Regions from separate parts of the Homo sapiens genome. Here regions 1, 3, 4, 5, 6 and 7 are each reported to be linked to region 2. Evidence: microRNA targets listed by miRTarBase, many of them from high-throughput screens and not tested one by one. Region 2 holds a microRNA gene; each other region holds the end of a gene's coding sequence.

Region 1 (4,090 bases), not on the chromosome of region 2:
AAGACAACGCTGGCCGTGCGGTTGGTGGACAGCATGAAGAGGTTGACTTTGCAGGCAGCAGCCCCAAAGCGCCAGGTCTCATGGAGGAGGTAGTAGTCCACGCGGAGGGGCAGGTTGCTGATCAGGAGGAAGTCAGCGGCCACCAGGCTGACCAGGAACACCGTGTTGGAGGTCCAGGGCCGCGTGTGGATGCAGAAGATGAAGAGGGCCAAACTGTTCCCCACCAGGCCCAGGACAAACTCCAGGGCCAGGATTGGTGCCAGGAAGGCAGACACCAGCGAGGAAGAGGTGGGGTGGCAGGGCCCTCCAGAGGACCCCCCCACAGTGGTAAAGGCAGAGGGAGCAGAGGAGGGTGAGGGAGAGAAGGAGGGAGGGAGAACAGAGGAGGAGAGAGAGGGAGATGGAGAGCTCAGGTTATGAAGTTCCATGGGCTGCTTGGGCCATGGGCCTGAGAGAAGGTTCTGGAGTCTTCTACCCCTGCAGGAGTGCTCAGGGCAAAGTGGGATGATTGGCACTATCAGCTGGCCACCACGGTGACACAACATCCTGGGGTTTTCATCAGCATTCTCGCAGCCACTGAGAAACACCCTGTGTTCCTGTTTGCAGGCCAAGGGGAACCCTGCAGCCCTCCCTCCTTCCCTCCGCCTCGGGGTACTGAGTGATCCCACCACATGAGGTCTCTGAGCCCAGCCTGGGGGTTGTGCTGCTGGTAGAGGAGGAAGCAGGGCTCAGCAGGGGCAAGATGGAAGCCCAGAGAAACCCTGAAGTGGGAGGATAGTCCAGCCGGGTGAGGTGGGGGCTCTCAGGATCATGCAGCCCTCCCTGGACACCCCCTCCTCCACTACATATAGAGGCTGGTGGCTGCCTCCCTGCCCCCACCAGCTCTGGCTTCAGGGACTGTGGAGCCAAAAGGACATTGTCCTGAGAGGTAGGCAGGGAGTCAGTGAAGACCTCCACCGCCCTGCTGGTGGCCTGGAGGGAACCAGTCCTATTTGTGCTCCGCCAGCCTGCTGTGTGTCTGAAAGCCCACTGTAGTTCAGCTTTCAGTTGCTCCCAGGTTCCTGATGGTTCCGAAGTCTGTGATGGTCCCAAGTCCGGGTACACGGTGAAGTAGGCCCCATGGACGGGGACGCCCCTGCCAAATTTCTACTGCCATGGCACGGGGAGCTGGGGGCTTCTCCCGCAAATAGAACAATCCTGATTTTTCCCTGTCTGTGTCTCCCCATGGCTCCTTGTCCACTCCACTCCTTGCCCCCATTAGCATTCACTGCGGAATAGGGAGTGGGAGGCTGGGGCTAGCTCCAGACAAGGTACAAGTCCAGCTGTCCCATGGTGAGGTATTCTCATGAGCCCATGGGCTGGTCCTGTGGGTGGAGATGAGGGCTTCAGGCTCCTGATAACCCGGGACAGCAGGGCCAAGGGAGGTGCTGGTTCCAGGCTCCAGGGCCTGACCCCATCACTGCCAACTGGCTGGGGTCAGCAGTCTGCCATGTGTGGCCTGGCCTCTGTGTCCCAGGCACAGTGGCCCCTGGCCTCTCTTGGCTGCCCTGGGCTCCCATTTGGTCAAGGCTGAGGGCAAACATCCCTGGGAGAAGCAGGGTGGTGAGGCCCAGCCTAAGCTCCATATGCAGACAGGCCTGGGTTGGAAACAGAGCTGCCCTATTTCCAAACCTCTCTGAGCCTGATCTGTAAAATCAGGCACTACCACCTTCTTGGAGAGTTGTGAGGATAAAATGAGATAATTTATGTAAAAACTTATAGGCCAGGCACAGTGGCTTAAGCCTGTAATCCCAGCACTTTGGGAGGCCGAGGCGGGCAGATCACGAGGTCAGGAGATCGAGACCATCCTGGCTAACACGGTGAAACCCCGTCTCTACTAAAAATACAAAAAAAGTAGCCGGGCGTGGTGGCAGGTGCCTGTAGTCCCAGCTACTCGGGAGGCTGAGGCAGGAGAATGGCGTGAACCTGGGAGGCGGAGCTTGCAGTGAGCTGAGATCGCGCCACTGCACTCCAGCCTGGGCAACAGAGTGAGACTCCGTCTCAAAAAAAAAAAAAAAAAAAAAAACAAACTTCTAGGGGATTCCTTGGGACAGAGCGAGTGTTCACAAAAACAGATCTAATTTTCATGACTTTCTCTCTGGATTAAGCTTGCCCTGCATATGAGAGTAAACTCTTCTCTTCACGGCCATCGGTATTCTGACCTGGGTCCTCCCTGGAACATTCTATGTCTTCTTCTCAGGTCCTGCACGGAGCAGTGCATTGCTACAGGCCAGGAACGAGCCGCGTGGAGCCTCTGCCTGTGCCTATCCTGGACCATTTGTGTTTGAAGGAGCCTGATGGTGTTTTTTCTTTGCTTGCAGGAGAGGAAAGCCCTTAGGGGTGACGAGGAGGTTGAAGGTCCCGATGTCTCTTAGGGCCAGTAGCCTTTTCAGCAAAGGCAGGTCTTTCTCTGCTCCCAGTGGAGTGTAGGAAGGCAGTGAGCCACTGGGCTGGGGATGAGGGAGACAGGGGTCAAGTGTTCTTTTCTAGAGGAAGCTTTGAGTCCACGCAGGGACCTGTTCTGTCCAGATCTGTCACTCTCATGTGCATGCCCTCATTGACTTCTCACGGAAGTCCCAGGAAACTGAGCTGCGCCCGCTGCAGGTTCCACATTCTTGTCTCTTCCCACTGGTGCCTCTGAGGCCTCCAGCATCCCTAGACACCCATAGCAGGCTCAGGGGTCCCTCTGGAGTCTTTGAACAGGGCACCTGTGCATGACAGGGGAGGGAAGGGGACACAAGGCCAGACACCCCCACCAACACTGCTGAGCTCCTGGTACAACTTCATGCCCCTCTCCAGGCTGATCATAGTCTTTAGGTATTAACAGTGGTTAGCTCTGGGTGGGGGATTTTGTGTATTTCTGGGTTTTCTATAGTTAGCACAGATGACTTCTGTTATTGGAAAAAAACTCAACAGATGCTAGTGTTTTAAAGTTATGTAAAAAGACAGACTGGGCAACATGGTGAAATCCCCATCTCTACAAAAAAGAAAAAAAAAATTAACAGGGTGTGGTGGTGCATGCCTGTAGTCCCAGCTACTCAGAAGGCTGAGGTGGGAGAATCACTTGAGCCAGGAGGGTCAAGGCTGCAGTGAGCTCTGATCACACCACTGCACTCCAGCCTTGGTGACAGTGAGATCCTGTTTCAAAAAAAAAAAAAAAGTAAAAAGAATAAATGAGAACAGAGAAGGAAGTGGAGAGATGACATTAGCCGTGCTCCCAGGACCAGGCATGGAGCATGCGTGGATCAAGTCACACACACAGTGAAGAATGCCCATCCACAAACAGGGATGCCCAATAACAGACCCTCCAACACGTCCATGGTCACCTGGTGCCCTGATGCCCCAGACACACCACATGGTCCTGGGGGGCACATGGGAAGGCCAGTGATGACTGCCTGCGGCAGACCCCCAGGTGTGCGTTCCTCAGGAAGCCTTTATTGAGGGCCTTCTTGGTGTGGAAGTGCTGCACTGAGTCTGCAGGGACAGAGGAATGGGCAGGAGCGGGGCCGGGGGTAGACCACCTGGCAAGACTGGCAAGGCAGTGGGCTGAGTCTGCCAGAGAAGATGGGGAGCTGCTGCCCGCCCAGGGGCATGGCATCTGGGCTGAGAAGGGCAGGAGGGTGGGTGACAACAATGTGCAGGTCTGTGGGGGACACAGCGGCAGTACACAGAGAGGTAGTGGGGGCTGGGAGAGTTGTTTGGCAGGGATGGCACTCGAGGGTGCTTGGCACACCTGTGGCTGCTTCAGGCCATGGCAAGAGGGTCACCCCAGGGGCTTCTTGCAGGCAGGGTCCTGGGTCACAGACAGGGCCACAGAGCCTTGTGTTCGCTCCCAGGCATACCTGTGGACACACAGATGAGCAGGGATCACACAGAGTTGGACCCTGAGGATCCCAGGGAAAGCCCTCCCTGCGTACTCACGAGGTCCCAGCTAGCACCAGGAGGCTGTCATCAGGGGCCAGGCTCAGGCGCCGTCCCCCCATTGTCACCACCGAGGAGCCCTCCTGGAGAAGAGGAGCAGGAGAATCAAATGGAGACTGTTGGGCCTCAT
Region 2 (4,074 bases):
ACCCCACAGTGGGTGCACTGCTGAAGCGGGTTCTCTGGCTGCCTTGAGCAGTCGCAGCAAAGCCAGACCCATGTGGGCCAGCAGCGTGGAACCCACGGCACCTGTCCTGGGGACTCTGCCCCAGCCTGGGGCTGGCCTCTGGGCTTTCCCATAGCCTCCAATCTGATTGTCCCTAGGCCCCTGAAAAGGCCAGCATCCACCGGCTGATGGAGGCCTTCATCCTCAGGCTGCAGACCCAGTTCCCCTCCACTGTCAGCACTGTGTACAGGTGTGGGTGTGTGTGGGTGTGTGCGGGGGGTGCGCGGGTGTGTGCTGTGCGCGGGTGTGTGCGGGTGGTGAGCTCACCACTCGTGCTCAGGCCAGGGCTTAGGGTGGAGCCCCAGCCCGTGTGATTCACCTGCTCCTCCCACAATCCGGCCACAGGACAAGTGAGAAGCTGGTGAAGGGCCCCCGGGATGGCCCTGCTGCTGGCGACTCCGGCCCCCGCTGCCTCCTCTGCATGTGTGCCCTGGACGTCGACGCCGCTGGTCTGTGTTTCATGCTCTTGGGGTGATGCGGGGAGGGAGCCAGGGAGTGGGTGTGGGGGCTCAGCAGCCCCAGGCTCCGTCACCCCCTCTCTGCTTGCAGACAGTGCCACGGCTTTTGGGGCTCAGACCTCCTCGCGTCTCTCCCAGATGCAGTCACCCATCCCCCTGACTGAGACCCGGACACCCCCGGGGCCCTGCTGTTCTCCAGGGGTGGGCTGGGCCCAGCGCTGTGGCCAGGGGGCCTGCAGGAGGTGAGTCCCTGTCCCTGCCACCCATGGCCAGCTGCATGGGGCGGGAGGGGGACCTGTCCTTACCCCACACTGCACGGCATTGAGGTGCCAAGGTGGGCACACAGCCAGCTCTGCTCCCGCAGGGAGGACCCCCAAGCCTGCATTGAGGAGCAGCTGTGCTACAGCTGCCGCGTGAACATGAAGGACTTGGTGAGTACGTGCCCACCTGTCCTGGGCCGGGCTTGGGGACGCGGGAAGGCCGTCACCTCGTGGGTGGCTTGAGGGGGTGCTGGCAGGTTTCTTGGCCCCTCGACACCGGCCTCTGTTGCAGCCCTCACTGGACCCCCTGCCGCCGTACATCCTGGCTGAGGCCCAGCTCCGCACACAGAGGTACTGGGGCCCACACTGCCGTGGCGCGTGGGTAAGGGGCCTCGGGGCTGGTGCCCACTGCAGCTTTCTCTCTAGGGCCTGGGGCTTGCAGGAGATCCGGGACTGTCTGATTGAGGACAGTGACGACGAGGCGGGCCAGAGCTGAGCGTGAGGACGTGCTTGCCGGGACAGCAGGCAGTGGCCACCTGGTACACCACACTGGAGCCGGAAGGCAAGGACGGGGGACTGGCCTCTGATTGTCCATTTGTATAAATAAAACATTTTTTAATTAAAAAAAAAACTCTACAGTACACGTGGGGGACGGCAGCGCCACGCAGGCCGTGGGGACGCAGTGTCCTTCTCTGACAGCAGCATCAGGGCTCAGGCAGGCCGGGAGGATGCATCACAGCTGGCGGCCTTGGACGGGGCAGTGGCTCCCCCGGCCTGAGGAGTGCCGCCCCTTGTGGCCACGCTGCCCAGCAGGCCGGCTCCTTCCCTCTCGGGCGCCAGCAGCAGCTCCTACTCCTTCTCACGAGTCCACTTGATCATGGTCTCCGGTGAGCGGTAGAGGAAGATGAGCTTGGCGTACAACTCCTCCTCCAGCTCCAGCTCCCGAGTCTCCCGCACCAGGAAGATGTCCTGGCAGAGCTTGAGGATGCGGTCCACGCACGGCAGCTCCTCGAACATAATGGAGTGCGAGATCTCGCTGAAGAATCCGCGCACGAACTTGCCGATGACCAGCACGATGGACACGTACAGCCCCATGATGCTGCGGGGGAAGCTGGTGAGTCCTGGGGCCGCCCGGAGCCCCCCGAGCTGCGGGGTGCCCCCCCAGCCACTCACTCACCCGTAGCCAGCCAGGAAGCCGAGGCTCGGTGGGCTGACCTTGTCACTGAAAATGACCATGGGCAGCAGGTTGCAGTCGGTCCGGCACTCCTGCAGCTCGATGACCCACCATTCGAGGAAGCCGGTGGCCCCCGCACCCTGCTCCCTCCGCAGCTGGATACGCACGCCGAGGTAGTCGGCCTCCTCATCTGGGATGGAGGGAGAAGATCGTTGAGGCCGCAGGTCACCCCTCTCTAGCCTCCCCCAACCCCCACGCCCATACTCACTGGGCTGCAGCTGCTTCACAGGGTTGGCTTCGGGCCCGTTGGGGGCACGGATGTACTTGGGGAAGAGATTAGGGATGACCCTGCAGGGAGGTGCTGGCAGGTCAGGCCTGGCCCAGCCAACCTGGCACAGCCCTCCTGCCCACCACCCGGGCCCTTCACTCACACAGACTGGTCCGAGGTGCCCTCGAGCAGGCTGGCCAGCTGCCGCCGTGCAGTGCTGTTGGGGGCCAGGGCCAGCATGTGCTTCTCGTTGGCATACTCCACAGTGCCTCCCTTCGCCAGGTCCCTGGGGGTGGGAACACAGCGTGACCCACTGTAGTGGGTCCACCCACCCAGGCACTGCCCCAAGTCCAGGACGAACCTCTGGAAGTTCCAGGTGAAGCGCAGGGTGATGTCGGCCGTGCCGTTGTAGAGCTCCCGCTTCATCTGGGCACGGCTGGGGGGACTGATGCGCCACAGCGCCCCGGAGCTGCCCTCAATCTGCGCCGTGACGATGTCCTCAGGGCTGTACTGGCTGATGAACTGCATGGCCAGCTGGGTACAAGTGACACCCTCAGTGACTGCAGCCGCCTCCCCACACCAGCTTTCACAGGGCAGAGGCCACTTACCGGCTGGGGGTCAAACTGCCGGGACAGCTCCTCATAGGCCTGGGCCGTGAAGGGGATGATGGACGGCTGCTGGGCGCTCATGGTGAACAGCGGCTGGGGCAGGCACGGGGACACGGGGCCACGAAGATGAGCGTGGAGGAGCGGCTGGGGGTGGTGCACCACCTTGGCCAGAACCCCCAGGGGATGGGAATGGACAGGCGGACCCACACATGCTCACCTCATAGCCGCCCAGCTTCAGGGTGACGGTGACATCGATGGGCTGGTTGACAACCCCAACCACGGAGCGCACCAGCGACATGAAGAGCAGTGGGAACCAGATGATGGCGATGAGGAAGAGGATGATGAGGCCACCCATGCCGTACTTGACGATCTTCTTCTTCTTCTGCCCTTTGGGCTGCGGGTATTTCTGGAGGGGAACGACACAGGTCATACGCTCAGCTCTGCCCTTCCTGCGGGTCACACAACCGCATTCTCCAGCTCACCCAGCAGCCCAGAAAAGCCCCAGCCTGACCTCAGTATGGCACAGCGGTAGTAATGGTGGGCAGACACAGGCCAGTGGAGTAGAACTAAGAGTCCAGTTGGAACCCTCATGTTCAGGGGTCGTTGATCTTAGACAAGGGAGCTGTGACCGTTCAGTGGGAACGGACAACCTTTTTCAACACGGTGCAGGCACCGCCCCAGGCAGGAGAATGAAACGCAACTCCTGCCTCATACCATGTGCCAAAATTTACCTCAAAGTGGATCAAAGAGCGAAACTTCAGAGCTAAAACTATAGAACTTTTAGAAGAAAACGGGCAAATCTTCATGAACCTGGATTTGGCGAAGGAAACAAAGTAAACCAGATATTACCAAAATAAATACTTTGTGCTTCCAAAGACACCAAGAAAATTTAAGAGACAGTCCATAGAATTGGAGAAATTTTCTGCAAATTTTAATTGATAAGGTTCTAGCAACCAGAGAATACAGAGAATTCTTCCAATTCAGTCATTTCTAGCCAATGTATCTGCAGAAAAACAGAAAAAACTCTAATAAAAAACAACCCAACTGCTGGGTGTGGCGGCTCACACTTGTCATCCCAGCACTTTGAGGTCAGGAGTTTGAGACGAACCTGGCCAAAAATACAAAAGACTAGCCAGGCCTGGTGGTGCACACCTGTAGTCCCAGCTACTCGGGAGGCTGAGGTGGGAGAATCGCTTGAACCTGGGAGGCAGAGGCTACAGTGAGTGAA
Region 3 (4,000 bases), not on the chromosome of region 2:
GACTTCTTTACCAAGCTGATGTGAAAAGAATGTGACCTGGGAATGCGGAGGCTTCATTTGGGGTGGACAGCTGCTGTCTGCTGCCTTGGCAGGGGCTCCTACTCCCAAGTGGGGGCTGAGCCCATGAGCAGGAGCTCAAGGAGCTGCAGGTCTGAGGCCAGACCTGTTTAATTCTATCCCACAGAGTCGCTGCCCAACGTGGTGGTGAATGGTGTGCTCCAGGGCCTCTACAGCTTCAGCATCAGCCCAGATAAAGCCCAGCCAAAGGCGGCCTGTCACCCTGCTCCTCTGCCACCGATGCCCTGATCAGTCCAGAGGCCTTTGGCTGCCTCCTAAGAAAGTCATGTGCCTCTGTCCTATGAACTCCATATAAGGCTGGGTCCTCCTTTGGCCTGGACCCAGGACTTAATTACCCAGTGCCCAGTTGTGCCACATTCCCACTCAAGGCTCAGAACTTGGCTCGCATTGGTAGCTGGAGGTGGTAGAATTTGTATGCTCTTAGAGCCCAACAGCCAAGGCAGGGTCAAGAAGATAAGTAATAAAAGAGGAAGTCAGCCAGGCGCGGTGGCTCATGCCTGTAATCCCAGCACTTTGGGAGGCCAAGATGGGTGGATCACCTGAAGTCAGGAGTTCGAGACCAGCCTGACCACCATGGAGAAACCCCGTCTCTACTAAAAATACAAAATTAGCCGGGCATTGTGGTGGTGCATGCCTGTAATCCCAGCTACTCGGGAAGCTGAGGTAGGAGAATCTCTTTTTTTTTTTTTTTTTTTTTTTTGAGACGGAGTTTCACTCTTGTTGCCCAGGCTGGAATGCAATGGCACGATCTCGGCTCACGGCAACCCCCGCTTCCCGGGTTCAAGCAATTCTCCTGCCTCAGCCTCTCGAGTAGCTGGGATTACAGGCATCCGCCACCATGCCCGGCTAATTTTTGTATTTTTAATAGAGATGGGTTTCACCACGTTGGCCAGGCTGGTCTTGTACTCCTGACGTCAGGTGATCCACCCGCCTCGGCTTCCCAAAGTGCTGGGATTACGGGCGTGAGCCACCGTGCTCGGCCCAAGGCAGGAGAATCTCTTGAAGCCAGGAGGCGGAAGTTGTGGTGAGCCGAGATCGCGCCACTGCACTCCAGCCTGGGCAACAAGAGTGAAACTCCGTCTCAAAATAAATAAATAATAAAGGAAGAAGTCAGCTGGGTGCAGAGGCTCATGCCTGTAATCCCAATACTTTAGGAGGCCAAGGCAGGAGGATGCTTGGGTCTGGAAGTTTGAGACCAGCCAGCGCAACATAGTGAGACCTGTCTCTACCAAAAAAAAAAAAAAAAAAAAAAAATCAATTTAGAGGTAGGCTATGAAAAAGTACAGATACATCCCTTAACATAGACTGGAGGGTGGTGGCAAGGGGAGCAAATGTGGAGGCCCAGTAGCTGGCAAAGTTTAGAAGCAGGGGGCAAAAGCTCCTGCCTGACTTTTCCTGGGTAGCTCCTGGGTCAAAATTTCAGGCAGGATCCCAGGGAAGGGGCAGGCACCCATTGCCACAGGAGAGTTGCAGGCATGTTGGGATGTAGGCCTAGGGGAGGTGCTGCAGGCTCAAGAACCAGGCCCACACATTATATATTAAAAAAAAAAAAACCCACATTTTTTTTTATTGGTCAGTGTTGGTAGGAGTTTGTTACAAAAGTGAGTCCATGGGCCTGTGGAATGTGAGGGGAGTGGGTCCGCTCCACCAGATGCCAGCACCGGGGCCAGTGCAGCTCAGAGCCCTGTGGCGGACTACAGGGCCTGCACAGACGGTCACTCAAAGAAAGATGTCCCTGTGCCCTACTCCTTGGCGATGGCAAAGGGCTTCTCCACCTCGATCTTGCCGCAGTCTGCGATGATCACATCCTTCAGGGGTTTATCCCGGCTGTCTGTCTTGGTGCTCTCCACCTTCCGCACCACCTCCTGGAAAAGAAAGGTGGAAGCAGGAGGGCATGGTGGATCAGGAGGTCCACCGCTCAGGAGAAAGGCCCCAGCGTATGGCTCAGGAGGGCTAAGACCCACAAGTGATCAACAGCACACAAAACTGGAGGCACCAAAATTCTAACAGACTCCTGGCCAGAGCAGGGAGAATGCAGATTTGACGAGGGGGTACAGGAATTTTGTTCCTTTGAAGTAAGACCCAGGTTGGGCCAAGGGTGAGGAGGAGGAAGAGGGTGACCAGGGCATGTGGCTTCTCAGGGACATTGCGTTCAGCTGCACTCTGTATACCTCAGGGGTGGGACCAGCACGTCACTGAGTGAAGGAGGGGAGGGAGGCTCTGGCAGTTGTGCAGCCTTCCTGGCTGGGCTCTGAGGGGGCTGGAAGAATTTAGAACCTTGGAGGCATGGAGGTACAGGGTTTATTCTGGACAGGAGCACTGGGCTGCATCTGTGGGTTGGGTCCTTTTGGGAAAGGGATGGACACATGGAGCTCCTGCCCTGGGGTCTGTGTTGAATCCCCGGTGAGGATTGCCCAGTAGTAGCCCTTGCTTCCACAACTCACCATGCCCTCTAGAACTTTGCCAAACACCACATGCTTGCCATCTAGCCAGGCTGTCTTGACTGTCGTGATGAAGAACTGGGAGCCGTTGGTGTCTTTGCCTGCGTTGGCCATGCTCACCCAGCCAGGCCCGTAGTGCTTCAGTTTGAAGTTCTCATCGGGGAAGCGCTCACCGTAGATGCTCTTTCCTGGGAAAAAAGACAGAGCAGGTCAGGGGCGCTGGATTGCGCCAAACCAAGCAGACATTCGGGGCCAGGACTGAGGGGGCTTAACCTGTCCTCTGTGCCAGGCTAGGCTGGAGTGGACTACAAGGACATAAAAGCAGCGTCCTTCCTATCTTCTGGCCTCAGAGCCAAGCCATGCTGACTGAGGCCAAGTGGGGCATCAGGCCAGGCTGATGTGGTGAACAGCTCACAGAAGGATTACTTTGAGAAGATAGTTTTGTGGCTTTTAAATAAGGCGCATGTTATCAGCTCCCCTTAGCTATGGCCCAGGCCTGCCACGGAGGGACTTTGGTGGAGGGAAGTGCCGTGCAGGATGCAGGGGAGTCAACAGGGTCGGAACTCTCCAGAAAAGGAGGACTGCTGTGGCTGACCAGCCTGTTTTCCTATGAGCACAAAAGACACAGGCATAGCTGCAGAGGAGAAAGCAGCCAGAGATGTGTGGGGAGGGGCAGAAAAGAGGGGCTGCCCCTTGGATTCTGGAGAGTCAAAGCCTCTTAACAAGGAATGAACAGGAATAAAAGACAGCTGTGAGTGTGTGTGACGCGTCTGTCCACGTGGGGCTTGGGGATATGGTAAGGGCAATCCGGAGTGATCTCTATGCCATTTCAGAGATCCTAGTTCCAAAGCTGCTTCCACGAGGAACACCGAAACCCTTCTTTTTCCCTATCACCCCTTGGAGACTGACACTGTGCATGAGGCCCCAAGAAACTCAGCCAAAAATGGGGTCATTTTCATTTTGTTTTATCTAACACCTTTCAAACATATTTGCATGCAAAACTCTTTTTTCCTTCTCACTGCACCTACCTTCATCCTGTGGTTCCACAGAATGGAACTGAGCTGGGAAACTGTCCTAGACAGATGCCAACCAGGAAGATGTTTCTGATTGGGCAGCAGGTAGGATGACTGAAAACCAAGAATGACCAGACTCTGGCTGGTGGGGACAGGGTGCTTCTGCCTGTGCTCCACCTCTCACCCCCACGCTGGGGAGACTGGACTCTGCCACATGTGCAGTGAGACCTGGCTGGAGTGCTGGCTAAAAGCCTCCCCCATTTGAGCCAACTGTGGGATTTTGATTATAGTTGTTATCCAGAAAACCCCCAAATCTCCATCCTTAGCTCCAGCCACTCTCTCAAGATACAGGGGTTCCAAACTCAAATGGACATTTCTATTTAAACTCAACATACCTTGTCATCTTTCTCTCCAGACCTCAGTTATTCTTTTGACCCCTTTTCCTCTGCACGTGGCTCAGGTTGTCCC
Region 4 (4,078 bases), not on the chromosome of region 2:
CTACTAGAGGCACTGGGACAAGAGCAGGAGGCTGGATCCTAGGCCCCTGGGATCTGTACCCAGGACCTGGAGAATACCACCCCACCCCCAGCCCATAATTGGGACCCAGAGCCCTTTCCCAGCACTTAAAACAGGAGCCTAGAGCCCCCTGCCCAAACAAAACAGGACATCTGTGACCGCCCTACCCCCACGCCAGCCCCAAACTAAGATATCCCTCACACCCAGCCCCCATTACCTAGGGACAAGAGTCTTCCCCAGCCTTGAACCCAGGACCAAGAGCCACCTACATCCAGCCCCAAAACTGGCTTCAGGCCAGAGCATCCATGGCCAATTTCAAATTGTGAACCCAGAGACACTCCCATCCACCCTTCTCCATGCTCATCCCCAAACTGGGGCCTGGGGCAAGGCACTCTCAAATCTTGAACCCTGGACCAAAGCTTTTCCAGACCCCACCCTACCTTCCAACCCAGGTCAAGACATTGCCAAATCTTGAACTCAGAACCCAAGTGTTCCATGCCCCTGTGTGGATGGAGTCGGGTATCCTGACTGTTGGACCCCTGGTCCAGGTGATCCCGACCCTCACCAGTCCCATTTGCCTCCCTCCAGCTCTGCTTAGGCATTTTGCCCCTCACCCCAATGTTCCACACCATCGACAACCAAGGGGTGAGGTGGGGACAGGCCTCAGCAGGGAATGGGGCGTATATGTTAGTGTTGCTGCAACAATAAAGCCTGTTGCATCTCTCATGCCAATTTGAGCCTCCTGGGTAAAGTCCTTGTACATTTCAAAGGACAGAAGTGGCCTACTTTTCAATTCTGCTAGACTCTTCCTGAATATGTGGGCTGAAGAGGTGATCTCTGAGGCCCTTCCTTGAACTTATGACCTCTGGATCAGCATTAAAGCACAGGGAAGGACAGGTGCAGTGGCTCACGCCTGTAATTCCAACACTTTGGGAGGCTGAGACTAGAGGATCACTTGAGGCTAGGAGTTTGAGACCAACCTGGGCAATATAGCAAGACTCTTATTGCTACAAAAAAATTAAAATTTAGCTGGGCATGGTGGTGTGCTTCTGTAGTCCCAGCTACTTGGGAGGCTGTGGCAGGATGGCCAGAGCCTAAGAGGTAGAGGCTGCAGTGAGCTGTGATTGTGCCACTGCACTCCAACCTGGGCAACAGTGAGAACCTGTCTCAAAAAGCTGGGCATGGTAGCTCACGCCTGCAATCCCAGCACTTTGGGAGGCTGAGGCAGGAGGACTGCTCAAGCCTAGGAGTCCGAGACTAACCTGGGCAACATAATGAGACCCCCATCTCTACTTTTTTTTTTTTTTTTGAGACAGTCTTGCTCTGTCGCCCTGGCTGGAGTGCAGTGGCATGATCTCGGCTCACTGCAATCTCTGCCTCCCGGGTTCAAGCGATTCTCCTGCCTCAACCTCCCGAGTAGCTGGGATTACAGGCACGTGCCACTACGCCCGGCTAATTTTTTTTGTATTTTTAGTAGAGACGGGGCTTTACTGTTAGCCAGGATGGTCTTGATCTCCTGACCTCGTGAGCTGCCCACCTTGGCCTCCCAAAGTGCTAGGATTACAGGCGTGAGCCACTGCGTACCCGGCCTACAATTTTTTTTTCTTTTTTAATTAGCGGGTATGGTGGTGCACAACTGTAGTTTCAGCTATTCAGGCGGCTGAGGTGGGAAGATTGTGAGTCCAGGAGGTCAAGGCTGCAGTGAGCCGTTATCGCGCCACTACATTTCAGCCTGGGCAACAGAGTGAGACATTGTCTCAAAAAAATAAAAATTTTTAAAAAATGTATAGGGAGGTTAAGGACAGAGTCTTTGTTATCACCATTTATATTACCAAGAGTTATTGTTTGAGGTTGGCTAGAAATTTGAGTGCAGACAGGCAAAGAAGTTGCCCCACATCACAAAGCAAGTAAAGTCAAAACAGATGACACTATCACAGGCTATTCCCAAGGTATGTTTTTTCCTGCAAAAATATATTATCTGGTCTTGACTAGAGGTGTGGGTCCTCAAGGTGAGGCAGACAGAGCAGCAACACATGGGTTCAGTTTACACATTTATTATACAAATCCCCTTCCAGTGTGGGTAATGTCTTGGGTCCAGATCCACTGGTATAAAAAGAAAAGCTTAACGCCAGGAAAAGGGGGTAGGGGAACCCCCAGCTCCGAAAATCACAGACAGGTATCATAGAAAACACAACTTGTGTGGGTTTGCTTAAAAAGTGGTGGATTGGGGCTGGGTGCAGTGGCTCACGGCTGTAATCCCAGCACTTTGGGAGGCCAAGGCGGGCAGATCACGAGGTCAAGAGTTCAAGACCAGCCTGGCCAATATGGTGAAACCTTGTCTCTACTAAGAATACAAAAATTAGCCGGGCATGGTGGCGTGTGCCTGTAATCCCAGCTACTCGGGAGGGTGAGGCAGGAGAACCCAGGAGGCAGAGGTTGCAGTGAGCTGAGATTGCGCCGCTGCACTCCAGCCTGGTGACAGAGCAAGACTCCGTCTCGAGAAAAAAAAAAGGGTGGAAGGAAAGCCAAGGAAGGTGTGAGTGGTGAGTGGCCCGTGGCCCGTAGGCAGACCTCACCTGAGGATTTCACTGGCATCTACCGGGTGCCCCTCCTGTGGGGCCTCCTGACTGGGGGTGGTCAGGGCAGAGGCCATGGGCACAGAGGGGGTTGGGCTCTTTCAGGCATCCCACCCAGACTGCAGTCCTTCCAAGTGTGGGCAGAGAGCCCACTGCCCCAACTGCCCTGGCGATGCGTGGCAGGGATTTCTGTTCACACCGGAGTCTCCTGGCTGCCCTAAATGGCCCTGAGACCCGATATGGTCCATTTTATGGAGGGGGTTCCTGAATGGAACCTGGTTGGGCATGGGAACAGGAATGAACCCAACCAGATGAGATCACAGTTTCCCTTTTGTAAAACGCCTAGTGTTGGAGGAAGACAGTGAATACCTAAGTCACAACTGTAAACATAAATGGAGGAAGGGGCTTGGGGTCCCCATGACATCATCCCCCCTCTTTTAAGCTAGCTGAGGGCCCCCAGTCCCCAGCACAGTGTGAGAGAAGAAGCAGGGTGTCAGACACCTTCCTGGGCCTACGGGGAGCCAGGGGCCTTGGAAGATTAGGTTGGCGCACTCTGCTCAGGACTGAGAGCAACCACACCCCAGGGCCCAGCGAGGTCAGCTGTGTGCTCCCCAGATTGGAATCGTGCCCAGGCCAACAAGGGACATATCAGAAGGGGTCAGACCAGTGTCCCCGGGGTCTGGGTGTCAGAACTGGAGGACTGCTCCCCCTCTAGCGTCAGGTCACTTAAACGAGCGCTCAGCTCCGGGGGATACAGGAAGTCCGCGTAGTATCTTTAGAAGGGGTAGCAGGAATCCGGAGGACAGGGCGGGGAAGACAAGAAGAAGAAAAGACAGACAAGACACAGAAAAAGAAAGGAAAAGAGGCTCGTTAAAGAGGTGGAGGCAGGCACAGGACAGCACTTTCAGGCTCTGGGGCATGGAGAAAAAAGGAAGAAAACAGCAAGGGGCATGAGATGTCCCTTCCTCCCGGCACCCTGGCTTCAAGGCTCATCTTCAGCCTATAACTTGATAAAGAATTGCTGCTACCAGTGCCCAAGATCCCCTCCACCAGGACCCCATGGACTAATGCAGGTCATGTGCAGTAGAGTGACCCTGTGCCATCACAGCAGCTAGTTTCCTCATGGTCCAATTCATTAGCTATCATGACTAGCCACTCCCTGGCCTGGATATCTTCGCCATCTGCCTTACGAGACCCCTACCCATCAGTAAAAGCACCCCCCATACCTGCCAGAGACAGGGGGCGCCGTGAAACTCCTCGAGTGTGGGAGTGGCGCCTGGCTGGGGGCCCCGTACAGCGCCTGGCCCACCTCATAGCAGCGGGCATGGAGGAAGGGTGGGTGTGGCGGGCCCACGGAAGGGAGCACAGGCCGGCGCTGGGGCCCCGCAGCCAGTCCCGAGTTCCGGATGTACCAGTCCCGCAGCCCCTCCAGAGCCAGGTTCTTGTGGCCACTGCGTTCACCAGCCGAGGGGATACGGGTGGGT
Region 5 (4,000 bases), not on the chromosome of region 2:
AACTCCTGAACTCAAGCAATCCACCTACCTCAGCCTCCCAAAGTGCCAGGATTACAGGCATGAGCCACCGTGCCAGGCCTCATTTGTCTTTTTAGAAAAGTTATACGCATATATAAGCCAATACAGATATTTTTGTCCTTTTTATACAAATGCTGAGTTGCTGCGTTCATTATTATTTTGGTGCTTGACTTTTTTCCACTTGATAGTAGAGCTCTTAGAGTTCTGTGTCACTAAAGATCTTCCTCATTTTTTAGCAGTTAATTTTGTTATAGGTGAATATGTGAAGGAATCATAATGCATTTTTTAATCCACTTTGGGTCTCACTCTGTCGCTCAGGCTGGAGTGCAGTGGCACAATCTCAACTCACTGCAACCTCTGCCTCCTGGGTTTAAGTGACTCTTATGCTTCAGCCACCGAGTGGCTGGGATTACAGGCATGGACCACACCCGGCTAATTTTGTTGTTTTTAGTACATACAGGGTTTCATCATGTTGCCCAGGCTTGCCTCCAATTCCTGGCCTCATGTGATCTGACCGCCTCAGCCTCCCAAAGTGTTGGGATTACAGGCGTGAGCCACTGCACCTGGCCTCCTTTCCAATTTCTGACCTCTGATTTTTCTTGTTTGTCTAATTGTGATGCCTAATGCCTCCAGAATAATAAGTTAAAAAAGAAGGATAATAGACTGGGTGTGAGGTGGCTGAAGCCTGTAATCCCAACACTTTGGGAGACCGAGACGGGCGGATCACCTGAGACCAGGAGTTTGAAACCAGCCTGACCAACATGGTGAAACCCCGTCTCTACTAAATATACAAAAATCAGCCGGGCATGGTGGTGCACGCCTGTAATCCCAGCTACTCGGGAGGCTGAGGCAGGAGAATTGCTTGAACCCGGGAGGCGGAGGTTGCAGTGAGCTGACATTGCGTCATTGCACTCCAGCCTGGGTGACAGAGCAAGATTCTATCAAAAAAAAAAAAAAAAAAAAAAAAAGAAGAAGAAGAAAAAGAATAGCGGCCATTCCTTCCTTGCCTTTAATGTAAGTAGGAATGTTATTAGTTTTCTCCACTAAGTGAGTGCATTGATTCTTGGGCTGGATCTTAGTCCAGTGAAGAATTTCGGGATTTGGAGAGGAGTATACTTGAGAAACATATTAGTCCATTATCACATTGCTATAAAGAAACACCTGAGACTAGATAGTTTGTAAGAAAAGGGGTTTAATTAGCTCACAGGCTATATAGGAAGCGTGGCAACATCTGCTTCTAGGGAGTCCTCGGGGAATTTTTACTCATGGCAGAAGGCAAAGTGGGAGCAGGCATCTTCACGTGGCCAAAGCAGGAGAAAGAGAGAGTGGGGAGGTGCTACACACTTTTAAACTACCAGATCTCACGATAACTCACTGTCATGAGACCAGCACTGAGGGGACGGTGCCAAACCATTCATGAAGGCTTCACACCCATGATCCAGTCGCCTCCCAGCCGGCCCCACCTCTAACATTGGGGATTACACTTCAACGTGAGATTTGGTGGGGACACAGATCCAAACCATATCAAAATCCAATTAAAAATTTTTTTGTTTGTTTTAGACACAGGGTCTTGCTATATTGGCCAAGATGGTCTCATACCCCTACCCTCAAATTAACCTCTCACTTCAGCCTCCCAAAATGCTGGGATTACAGGTGTGAGCCACAGCTTCCAGCCTTAATATAAATCTTGACTCAGCATTCTTTATTCTCACTGTCAGACTGCTCAATGCATCCCTTATTGAAGTTTCTTGAAGTTTCGAAAAACAGGTATGTTCAGATAATTTTCAGCAGAATTCATCAAAAAATGTTAACAACTCTTTAAAATTTTTACACATTTTATTTAGCACAATTGCTACCATTTAAAAATCAGGTGTTTTGGCCAGGCATGGTGGCTCACGCCTGTAATCTCAGCTCTTTGGGAGGCCGAGGCAGACAGATCACCTGAAGTCAGGAGTTTGAGACCAGCCTGGCCAACATTGTGAAACCCCATCTCCACTAAAAATACAAAAATTAGCCAGGCGTGGTGGTGTGCACCCATAGTCCCAGCTACTTGGGAGGCTGAGGTAGGAGAATGGCTTGAACTCAGGAGGTGAAGTTTGCAGTGAGCCAAGATCACGCCATTGCATTCCAGCCTGGGTGAGAGAGCGAGACTGTCTCAAAAACCAAAACAAAACAAAATCAGGTGTTTTATTCCACTCCCCCCATCAGTGTTTTCTTATTTCTAATACTTCTAGAAACCTCCTTTAAGTTTTCCTATTTTAGACAGACACCACACAGGTGCTCTTTTTTGGGAGGAGGGGGATGAGAGTCTTACTCTGTTGCCCAGGCTGGAGTGCAATGGTGCAATCATAGCTCACTGTAGCCTCTGACTCCTGTGCTCAACCCATCCTCCCACCATGGCCTCCCAAGTAGCTGAGACTACAGGCACACACCACGCTGCCCAGCTAATTTTTTAATTTTTTAGTAGAGTCAGGTGTCACTGTGTTGCCCAGGCTGGTCTTGAACCTCTGGCCTCAAGCAAAACTCCCACCTTGGCCTCCCAAATTGCTCGGATTACAGGAGTGAGCCACTGCACCTGGCCCATAGATGCATTAACACCTGTCTATGGTGGTGGAGAGAAGGCTCACTGCCTCTCCCAGGCCACTGGGAAATGACCTTGTGTATTCTGCAAATACACAAGAGGATCTGAAGCTATTCTTGAGGGAGACTTTCAACAGCAAAACTCAGAGCACAAAATGGAAAATAATCATAAAAAAATTAAATAATAATACTATCAAATCATAACGTGAATAATGCTGTTATTAGAGTTGAAGAGAAGCCCTTAGAAATGGGACAAACATTGTAATTCTCTTAGAGAACTGTAACTTAAACAGAAATACACTTAATAGAAGAGGAAAGAAAATGGTTCATGTGACACAAAGGTCCCATGTGTTGACTTCTTTGGTAAGATCAAATAAGTATTTAAGCCTAGCAATAGGGTCAGTCCAGTTAGTATTTCTCCTCACAAATGGTGAATATCAACTCCAGGATGGCTGGAGTTTTCTCATGGTTTGGTTCCACGCCATCTGCATGTCTTTACAAGTGATAAAAACCAGAATTTTCCAGCTGCTACTAGTCACAGGGGGTCCCCAATATGGGTTGTTTAATTATGATGACGGGTCCTGTCAATTGCATCCAGTAAAATTGGTCACATAGAGAACTCATCTAAAACTGAGGTTTTGTTGTGGTTTTGAAAGGTCCATTGGAATCCAGATTTGCAAAGCATGTCAAGTTATGGCAAAACATATGCCACCCATCTCAAAATCTTTCCTTATTATTGCATAACTTTGAAAGCCACTGTTGCGTTTGTTGCGATGAGGTTAGAGTTTTGTTGACATGATGATATTACTCTCTTCCTCTGGGTGAGACACATCTGGATTCTCACTTGGAGCAGGGCTCTGTACATCCTTCTGGGATTTGGTTGAGTAGGTAATATACATGCTTCTCATTAGGAAAATTCCAGCAATTACTGCAAAATAGCTCCCATAAACTAAAAACTGGAGAAAAACAAATAATTAGCCACATATAAAATATGACCATCTATGTCAATGATAATACATCCTAATACTGTTGGTTTGCTTGGATTATGGGGTAACTGAGACCCAGGTTTTTAATATGGGTCATTTAGGTTGAACAATACTCTCCTATCAAGTAAGAAATCAAGATCAAGTAAGAAGGTGTAAGCAATACGGTGACTAAGAGTCTTGGCTTTAGAGCAGGTTGCTTGGGTTAAAATCATAGTTACTATCATCAATAGTAAAAAACAAAACAAAACAAACCCAAAAAAACACTAAAACTCATTGACCTGTCTCTATGTCTTTGTTTGGAGGCTGGTGCAATGCTACATTCAATGTCTCCAAGAATAAATTTAAGCATTGAGGTTACTTCTTACCTGCCTTATCCATGTAAATGTTGTCCTAGTTGCAATTATTGCTCAAAACCT
Region 6 (4,090 bases), not on the chromosome of region 2:
TTGCTGAGGCTCCATTTTCCTCCCTGCAGTTAAAGATCCCTGACCTGTTCCGTGACCTGGAGATCATCCCAGCCTTACTCCACGGGGACCTCTGGGGTGGAAACGTAGCAGAGGATTCCTCTGGGCCGGTGATTTTTGACCCAGCTTCTTTCTACGGCCACTCGGAATATGAGCTGGCAATAGCTGGCATGTTTGGGGGCTTTAGCAGCTCCTTTTACTCCGCCTACCACGGCAAAATCCCCAAGGCCCCAGGATTCGAGAAGCGCCTTCAGTTGTATCAGCTCTTTCACTACTTGAACCACTGGAATCATTTTGGATCGGGGTACAGAGGATCCTCCCTGAACATCATGAGGAATCTGGTCAAGTGAGCGGGCCTTACTCTGGAAGGAGGCCTCAGAGGTTTCTCCACAGTCCTCTTCTGGGCAAATTCTTGTTTCTTCACATGCTGGACTAGCTTAAGACCAATGCAGTAGCTTATTTCCAAGCCTTGCAAAGTATATAATATCTAAGAGGAAAGGTTTTGTCATCCCAGCGTTGTCCACTTTGTGGGGCTTTGTAGGTAGACGGAGCCACACTACAGGCAGGGTATGAGCAGAGGGATGTATGGAGTGTGGGTGACTCTGAGCCTCACTGCTGCTGCAAGGTGGGGAAACTGTAAGTGAACCCCTGTGGGTGCGGGGGAGGGTATCCGGTGCGCAGGGAGGTGGCCAGCGCCCCCGGGCACTGCTGCTCATAGGTACCTTTCCACTGCCTCCTCCCTGCTCTCCTGTGCAGGAATGTCTCTGAGCTGTTCACGTTGATGCTTCTTGGTTGGCAAGACTTGGGTGTAGACATGAAACCATCTTACTAAAAGCGTCTTAAAATGACCAATTCCAGAATCAAGCGTATTCCGTTTTCTTCCTGCATGATCCCTGGGCCCTCCCGCAGGCTGAGCAAGTCTGTAAACTGATTCTGGGAGAAACCAAGCTGCTGGCCATAGGGTGTCCTTGGGTACATCCAGGAGTCTTCATTGCTTCTGTTATTACCCCGTCTCCTCTGCCATTTTCTACAGCTTGCTGAGTTGTCATTCCTTTGCAACATTAAAATACATGCTGAACTCATATTTTTCCTTCCTTCACTGTTGTAGTAAAGAGACATATTTCATGAATGGCATTGATGCTAATAAATCCTTTGCACAAAAATTTGAATAAACTTCCAGTGGTTTCGATAACGTACAAGATTGTATATTTCCCTCATTTATTGTAATTCAATATCTTAGTTGTTTGCTGAAAAACTTGTAATATTTTGTGACAAACAGGTACAACTAGTGTTTTTGTTGTTGTTTTTAGAGACGGTCTTGTTCTGTTGCCTAAGCTGCAGTGCGGTGGCATGATCATAGCTCACTGCAGCCTCAAACTCCCAGGTTCTAGCAGTCCTCCCATCTCAGCCTCTTGAGTAGCTGGAACTACAGGCGTGCACCACCACACCCGGCTAATTTTTGTATTTTTAGTAGAGATGAGGTTTTGCCATGTTGCCCAGGCTGGTCTCAAACTCCTGAGCTCAAGCAATCCTCCCACCTTAGCCTCCCGAGTGCTGGGATTACAGGCCTGAGCCACCATGCCTGACCCAACTGTTCTTTCTTTCTTTCTTTTTTTTTTTTAAGACAGAGTCTCACTGTTTCCAAGCTGGAGTGGTGCAATGGTGCGATCTCAGCTCCCTGCAACCTCTGCCCTCCGCCTTCTGGGCTCAAGCAATTCTCATGTCGCAGCCTCCTGAGTAGCTGGAGTAGTCGGTGTGTCACCACAGTGGCTAATTTTTGTATTTTTAGTAGAGACGGGGTTTCACCATGTTGCCCAGGCTGGTCTCCAACTCCTGACTTCAGGCAATCAACCCGCCTCAGCCTCCCAGCTGTTTCTTTTTTCTTTTTCTTTTTGAGATGGAGTCTTGCTCTGTCACCCAGGCTGGAGTATAGTGGTGCGATCTCAGCTCACTGCAACCTCTGCCTCCTGGGTTCAAGGATTCTCCTGTCTCAGCCTCCCGATGTAGCTGGGATTACAGGTGTGTGCCACCACACCTGGCTAATTTTTGTATTTCTAGTAGAGATGGGATTTTGCCATCTTGGCCAGGCTGGTCTTGAACTCCTGGCCTCAAGGAATCTGCCTGCCTTGGCCTCCCAAAGTGCTGGGATTACAGGCCTGACCCACCATCCCTGACCCAACTATTGTTTCTTAAAAAAAACTCTTTTTAACCTTGCCTTTTTGTTAGGGTAGAAGGATAGCTCAGAGCTTCAAAGAGCAGGACTAGCCTAAGAACTGTCTGTGATATTTGACCAGAGGTGCAGCCTAGCTGCCATTCTTCCTCACCCTGTGGAAGACATTAAAGGGAGAATGAAAGTAGCTGTAGAATTACCTTTGGGGGAAGAAGCCACTTGGTGAACTTGGCAAACACCCGTGTTTGAGGGGTCACCCAGGGTGTCATGAGCTGGGCCGGAGGGGATGGATTGATTACTTGTCTTGTTTGCTTGTTTCTGTTGTAAGTCAGGGCCCCTCAGCAGAAGGCAGAACAGAACCGAGTTCCTTTAGAATGCTGGTTTTTGTGTGGAGTGAGGAAGGACCGTGAGTGTGGTCAGTTTCCAACCTGACAGGACCTGCTCCCGTTGGCCAGGACTGCAGCTTGTTACTTTGACCCTGGGAAGAAGGTAAGTGTTCCCAAGAAAAGGGACGTCCCAAAGCGGCGCCATCCCGATGGCACGTGTGCTGCTCGACTCCCTGCCGGGTAGGTCCATCCTGACGGCGCATGTGCCCCTCAGCTCCCCCCACTGGGTAGGTCCATCCCGACAGCACCTGTGCTGCTCGACTCCCCCCACTGGGTGGGTCCATCCCGACAGCACCTGTGCCGCTCGACTCCCCCCACTGGGTAGGTCCATCCCGACAGCACCTGTGCTGCTCGACTACCCGCCGGGTAGGTCCATCCCGACAGCACCTGTGCCCCTCACCTCCCTGCCAGACGGTGCGTGTGCCGCTTGGCTCCCCACCAGGTAGGTCCATCCCGACAGCACCTGTGCCGCTCACCTCCCCACCGGGTAGGTCCATCCCGACAGCACCTGTGCCGCTCACCTCCCTGCCGGGTAGGTCCATCCCGACGGCGCGTGTGCCGCTTGGCTCAAGGCCCTGACATCGTTCCACTCAGCACAGCATCAGGTGCCCGGGACCCGGGACATCATCGTTCTGTGTCAGCACATCAGGTGCCCGGGGCCCGGACATCATCGTTCCACTCAGCACAGCATCAGGTGCCTGGGACCCTGGACATCATTGTTCTGCTCAGCACAGCATCAGGTGCCCGGGACCCTGGACGTCATTCTGCATCAGCACAACATCACCAGTGACGAGAGCCTCCCCAAGTGGTTGACGGGAAGGATGGTTCGGTCCTCCAGAGGCGGTGGCCTTCTCTTCCTCGATGACATTGCCGGGCTGCACCTTGTGAGAGGCCGTCGCTGAGAGTGCAGCCAAATGGAACCATCAGGAGGGGTGTCTCGGGGGTGTCGAAATGGTAAACAGTAGTGGGTAGTTTTCAGATTTTGCAATGCTGCGGTATGTGTCAGCTTTTTATTTTTTATTTTCTTTTTTATTTAATTTTAATTTTTCTTAGACAGTCTCACTCTGTCACCCAGGCTGGAGTGCAGTGACATGATCTCGGCTCACTGCAGTCTCCGCCTCCCAGGTTCAAGGGATTCTCCTGCCTCAGACTCCCCAGTAGCTGAGATTACAGGCACCTGCCACCATACCTGGCTAATTTTTATATTTTTAGTAGAAATGGGGTTTCACCATGTTGATCAGGCTGGTCTCGAACTCCTGACCTCAAGTGATCCGCCCACCTCGGCCTCCCAAAGTTCTGGGATTACAGGTGTGAGCCGCCGCATCTGGCCCCGTGTCAGCATTTTAAATTTGTAAGTTGATGCAATGCTTATTCTAAAATATCTAATTTTGTATTATTATAATATATGCATGTTATATATTTTTATATATACACACTTTTTCATAAAGGGCTATCAAAATCCTATAGGCTTCAGGCACAATAGATGCCCTTGCATCTACTCAGAGTTGATTCTTCT
Region 7 (4,089 bases), not on the chromosome of region 2:
CCTCTCCAAAAAAAACGGAATTCAAGGATTTGGAGATTGAAGTGCTGAGTTGAGCAATACAGATGTACAAAAAACTTTTTTAAAAAGTCCAATCTCACTAGCTTTGCATTTACCTCTGTGGTGTGTTTGCCCCGGACAGCTTGTTCTAAATCCATAGTAACCATCTTTTAAAGAATTTTTTTTTCTCAAACATTTTGCTTGGTTAGGCCTCTGACTCTTCCCTTGTTGTTATGGTTAGGAGACTGAGGATTTATGCTTGCAATACAGTAGATTCTTTCCCTTCTTCTATTTTCTTATTTGGTTAGCTAGTTAATTAAACTTCAACATAATTACATAATTCACTGTGCTCATTCTGTGAAATAATTTAGCACCTTGTTTTCCAGAGCTGTCAGAAAGCAGAAGCAAAGAAAAAGTAATAAGATGAAAATGGAGACCACGAAAGGACAATCCATGAATCATACATCTGCTACAAGGAGAAAGAAAAGGAGGGAAAGAGCCCATCAATATCTTGGCTCTTAAATGTCCAGTGACTGGAGAATAAGAAAGATTTATGGTCCAACCTTTGATGCCATTTTCTGAAAGTGCCACACTGGACTTAAATTCAGCTGCTTCCAGAGGTGTGCACCTTTCTGAGCTAGATAACAGGCAGGTGGCATTTGCTGGTTTACAGTCCCTTATCTGCCTCTCTGGAGACATGGGGAGTTGTTCCATCTTCAGCCAGTTTACTAGTTCTTTCAGCATTCATTTTTCCTCACTTTAAGTCTCTCCCAGTCACATTGTTCTATTTTTATGTTTTCATTTTTTTTGAGATGGAGTCTTGCTCTGTCTCCCAGGCTAGAGTGCAATGGCACAACCTCAGCTCACTGCAACCTCTGCCTCCCGGGTTCAAGCAATTCTCCTGCCTTAGCCTCCTGAGTAGCTGGAATTATAGGCACATGCCACCACGACTGGCTAATTTTTGTATTTTTAGTAGAGACGGGGTTTCACCATGTTGGCCAGGCTGGTCTCGAACTCCTGGCCTCAAGTGATTTGCCTGCCTTGGCCTCCCAAAGTGCTGGGATTACAGGCATGAGCCACCTCACCCAGCTCCGGTCACATTATTCTAGCCTTTTTATCCAAAAAATGGGCAGACCATTCTTTTGCAGAAGATGTCAGAAGAAAATGAAAGTGAAAACCTATGCAGTTTGTTTACCGTGAACATAAAAGTATGTTAATTTAAATAGGAAAATATTTTATGTTAAATATGAAACAATAGTTTAAACCCCACTTGAAAAGTATAGCGTACAATTATTTTTAGACTGAATTTGAAGATGATGGAAAGGGTTTTTACAAAGGCACTGTTTAGATATACAGATTATAATTATAATTACATTATTATTAAATATTTATTCTTCAAGTACTTTTTGCAGTTGTCCTCTGACGGTCTAGAATCACTTAAATGCTTGTTGAATGAGTGAGATGTTTAGAACTACGACTTGCTCTGTCATTCCAGTGTCGTTTAACCTATGCAGTAAGATTCTGTCTTTGTAAAAGTAGTTCGTAGCAGAAGCCAGGATAGTTTGGTAATTAAACGCCCAAACTAAACTCCTCATTCCTACCCTTAATATTTCCTGGCTGTATGATCTTGGCCAGGTCACTCTCTAAAAGCCCCGGTTTCTTCATTATTATCATTATTATAATGGGGAGAATAACAGCTATACCTGAGGTTTGTTTTGTGATTAAATTAAATGAGACCCAAGTGCTTGGCTCTCAGTTCTCCTCTGTCATTGGTGTGTTAGGTTAACAATGAAGATTGTTACTGGGTCTAATGGTAATTACCTTTTGGCCTGATAACAAAGCATTGAAGGCAGTAATTTGAACTCCCAGAACAAACAGTTCATCTCCCCGTTTCTGTGCTAGTTATTGTCTCCTTAAGACTGAATTGTTTTGAATGACTTATATTTGCATAATGACTTTTCTCTTGTTTCCAAACAACTGCTGTAGAGCAGATTTGAAGGCATCTTTGTTTGGGGTTAGGCAGAGCCCTGTAAGTAAGGGTGGAGGAACTGCACTCTATCTGGTATTTAAATTCCAGGTAAGTTAGGACTGATGCCTGGTGTAGAATGCTCAAGTGTGGCCCAGATCAGTGTGGCAGTGGTGTACATCAGTTGATGTCAAAAGATGAGTTATACCCCTGGACTTCATAAGCATCAGAAAGCTCTTCTCCCTTTTGTTACATGGAGGGCTATGATAGGAGGGGCACATTTGGAGGTGACTGGGTGAGATATGAAGTTTGTAAAACCGTTGTGAGAGTTCCCCTCTCTGATTCAAGCAAGGATAGGGACATTGCCTGACTTTATGGTGTTCACCATTCCATGATAAAATCTATTGAAATCTCCTCTGAAACTAAGACACCTGAGGGACTATGACTACTGAAAAATTGAGTTCTGAAGGCCAACAGTTATTCTCATCACTATATTGCCTTAATGTTAAGATACCATCAATTATAAAATACATCATTGATTTTATCATAGCTTTTCAGGGGGAGAAGAGAAATAATACTTCATTAATTAATTTTTAGATCATCTGATTTCAGAAATACTGAAATGCAAAAAAAAAAAAAATCTTAGAATTGAGGAAATAGTTATAATCAGGAATAATGTACTTATTTATTTTGAGACAGAGTCTTGCTTTGTTGGACAGGCTGGAATGCAGTGGTGGGATCTCTGCTCACCGCAACCTCTGCCTCCTGGGTTCAAGTGATTCTTGTGCCTCAGCCTCCCTGGTAGCTGGGATTATGGGTGTGTGCCACCACACCCGGCTAATTTTTATATTTTTGTAGAGACTGGGTTTCGCCATGTTGGCCAGGCGAGTCTCAAACTCCTCATCTCAGGTGATCTGCCCGCCTCAGCTTCCCAAAGTGCTGGGATTACAGACGTGAGCCACCACACCCAGCCAGGAATAATGTACTTTAAAACTTTATTACTGTCTTAGAAAGTTAAAAATAGGAAATTTGGTGATTTTACACTTATATTCAATTAATACTAATTTTAAGGACTTAATCTCTATTCCTTTTTCAGAGAATAAACTAATTGGTAGCCTGTAAAAATGTGTCTCTGGGAGGTAGAATGTGAAGCGGGATGAGGTCATTTGTTCTTAATAGAAATCTGAACATCTTAACATTAAGATACCTTCTCAAAATAGCAATAGAAGAAAATCCCTAAAATTTGACAGATAACATTTTCTAAGCTTTTTAAAAGGACATTTTTAATAAATACAGCTAAATTTCATTCTTCTTATATTATGAAATTTAATGAGAAACAAAGTCTTTTTGTAGGCTGGATTTCATGTTTTTTCCTAATTAGTCCAGTACCTAGACTAGTTTATCACTCCATATGCCCCATTCTTTTCATCCGATACTGTTCTTTCTGCTTGGAATATGTCCCTCCATGTGGCCACTCCGTTCTCTTTTGGGAATCTTCCACGAGTCCCTGATACTGAAACCTTCTTTGGCCCCTTGGTGTTTGATACCACATTTAAGGCCTTTCACATATTATTCTGTGATTATTTTTACTGATTTTATTTCCCTCAAAGATTTAGGTCTCTTAATGTCAGCACCCATTTCATCTGCTCTTGTGTATCTTGTGCCTTTTTGGTGCTCAATAAAAATTTGATGTAAGCATGGAATTTTCTAGAGGCTTTGAAGTGGTAGGCATGCCTGAAATACGGACTGGACCCACTCTATTATGTTTCTTCTAGGGACTGAAAAGGGAAACAGATTTGTATTAGGAGGCACTTAGAGTCAATATGAGGACCACCCTAACTGAAGTTTTAAATGTGGGGATGTGCTGCGTGAAGATTAGTAGCCTTGTAGCAGGATGAGCCGTGGACAAAACCCCACAGACACCAAGATAGTGAAGGAAGTAGCTTTTAATCAGTTGGAAGCATCGACAGTCTAGTGTCTTAAAATCCGAGTTTGTTGAGTGCACAATTTCTGTCCCTTTTAAGGGCTCACAACACTAAAGATTTTACATGACAGGGCCGTGATCGATTGAGCAATCTAGGGGGTATGTGACAGGGGCTGCATGCACCGGTAATCAGAGTGAAACA

What was found. Region 2 holds the annotated microRNA hsa-miR-4722-5p (GGCAGGAGGGCUGUGCCAGGUUG, at 2,356-2,378, opposite strand). A microRNA usually pairs through its seed, bases 2 to 8, with sites in the 3' UTR of a target mRNA and lowers its output. Matches are read on the target gene's strand: a 7mer-m8 pairs with bases 2 to 8, a 7mer-A1 pairs with bases 2 to 7 and ends in A, and an 8mer does both.
Region 1: the mRNA of HAAO is a reported target of hsa-miR-4722-5p. Seed matches in the 3' UTR shown: 7mer-m8 at 3,652-3,658 and 7mer-m8 at 3,534-3,540.
Region 3: miRTarBase lists SNX22 as a target of hsa-miR-4722-5p. Seed matches in the 3' UTR shown: 7mer-m8 at 869-875, 7mer-m8 at 1,457-1,463 and 7mer-m8 at 2,451-2,457.
Region 4: miRTarBase lists CCDC120 as a target of hsa-miR-4722-5p. Seed matches in the 3' UTR shown: 7mer-m8 at 2,431-2,437.
Region 5: miRTarBase lists SLC19A3 as a target of hsa-miR-4722-5p. Seed matches in the 3' UTR shown: 7mer-m8 at 1,328-1,334 and 7mer-m8 at 868-874.
Region 6: the mRNA of FN3KRP is a reported target of hsa-miR-4722-5p. Seed matches in the 3' UTR shown: 7mer-A1 at 899-905.
Region 7: miRTarBase lists ZCCHC4 as a target of hsa-miR-4722-5p. Seed matches in the 3' UTR shown: 7mer-m8 at 896-902.

The regions. Positions count from the first base shown.
Region 1 is chr2:42,763,635-42,767,724 of GRCh38, forward strand. HAAO (3-hydroxyanthranilate 3,4-dioxygenase) reads right to left here. Exons shown (of 10, transcript NM_012205.3): 9 at 3,961-4,043; 10 at 3,455-3,881. The coding sequence ends at 3,803. OXER1 (oxoeicosanoid receptor 1) reads right to left here and starts at 501. Exons shown (of 1, transcript NM_148962.5): 1 at 1-501. The coding sequence starts at 428. RefSeq lists an enhancer at 3,784-4,090.
Region 2 is chr16:88,713,960-88,718,033 of GRCh38, forward strand. MIR4722 (microRNA 4722) reads right to left here and starts at 2,378; the gene lies at 2,319-2,378. It overlaps CTU2 (cytosolic thiouridylase subunit 2), which reads left to right. Exons shown (of 15, transcript NM_001012759.3): 10 at 177-268; 11 at 424-527; 12 at 628-778; 13 at 901-967; 14 at 1,089-1,147; 15 at 1,223-1,437. The coding sequence ends at 1,292. It overlaps PIEZO1 (piezo type mechanosensitive ion channel component 1 (Er blood group)), which reads right to left. Exons shown (of 51, transcript NM_001142864.4): 45 at 3,064-3,252; 46 at 2,847-2,939; 47 at 2,600-2,772; 48 at 2,402-2,524; 49 at 2,239-2,318; 50 at 1,974-2,160; 51 at 1,379-1,895. The coding sequence ends at 1,646.
Region 3 is chr15:64,154,203-64,158,202 of GRCh38, forward strand. SNX22 (sorting nexin 22) reads left to right here. Exons shown (of 7, transcript NM_024798.3): 7 at 185-3,279. The coding sequence ends at 306. PPIB (peptidylprolyl isomerase B) reads right to left here. Exons shown (of 5, transcript NM_000942.5): 4 at 2,523-2,707; 5 at 1,615-1,943. The coding sequence ends at 1,821. Among named protein-coding and RNA genes, the nearest start is that of SNX22, 4.5 kb to the left of the region's middle. RefSeq lists enhancers at 1-209, 1-74, 85-244.
Region 4 is chrX:49,067,833-49,071,910 of GRCh38, reverse strand. It overlaps CCDC120 (coiled-coil domain containing 120), which reads right to left. Exons shown (of 11, transcript NM_001163321.4): 10 at 3,821-4,078; 11 at 2,057-3,367. The coding sequence ends at 3,253. PRAF2 (PRA1 domain family member 2) reads left to right here. Exons shown (of 3, transcript NM_007213.3): 3 at 1-750. The coding sequence ends at 42. Among named protein-coding and RNA genes, the nearest start is that of PRAF2, 4.1 kb to the left of the region's middle.
Region 5 is chr2:227,684,020-227,688,019 of GRCh38, forward strand. SLC19A3 (solute carrier family 19 member 3) reads right to left here. Exons shown (of 6, transcript NM_025243.4): 6 at 1-3,554. The coding sequence ends at 3,378. Among named protein-coding and RNA genes, the nearest start is that of SCYGR5, 19 kb to the left of the region's middle.
Region 6 is chr17:82,726,804-82,730,893 of GRCh38, forward strand. FN3KRP (fructosamine 3 kinase related protein) reads left to right here. Exons shown (of 6, transcript NM_024619.4): 6 at 30-1,210. The coding sequence ends at 368. Among named protein-coding and RNA genes, the nearest start is that of FN3K, 6.8 kb to the right of the region's middle. RefSeq lists an enhancer at 2,978-3,478.
Region 7 is chr4:25,368,646-25,372,734 of GRCh38, forward strand. ZCCHC4 (zinc finger CCHC-type containing 4) reads left to right here. Exons shown (of 13, transcript NM_024936.3): 13 at 384-1,738. The coding sequence ends at 519. Among named protein-coding and RNA genes, the nearest start is that of ANAPC4, 6.6 kb to the right of the region's middle.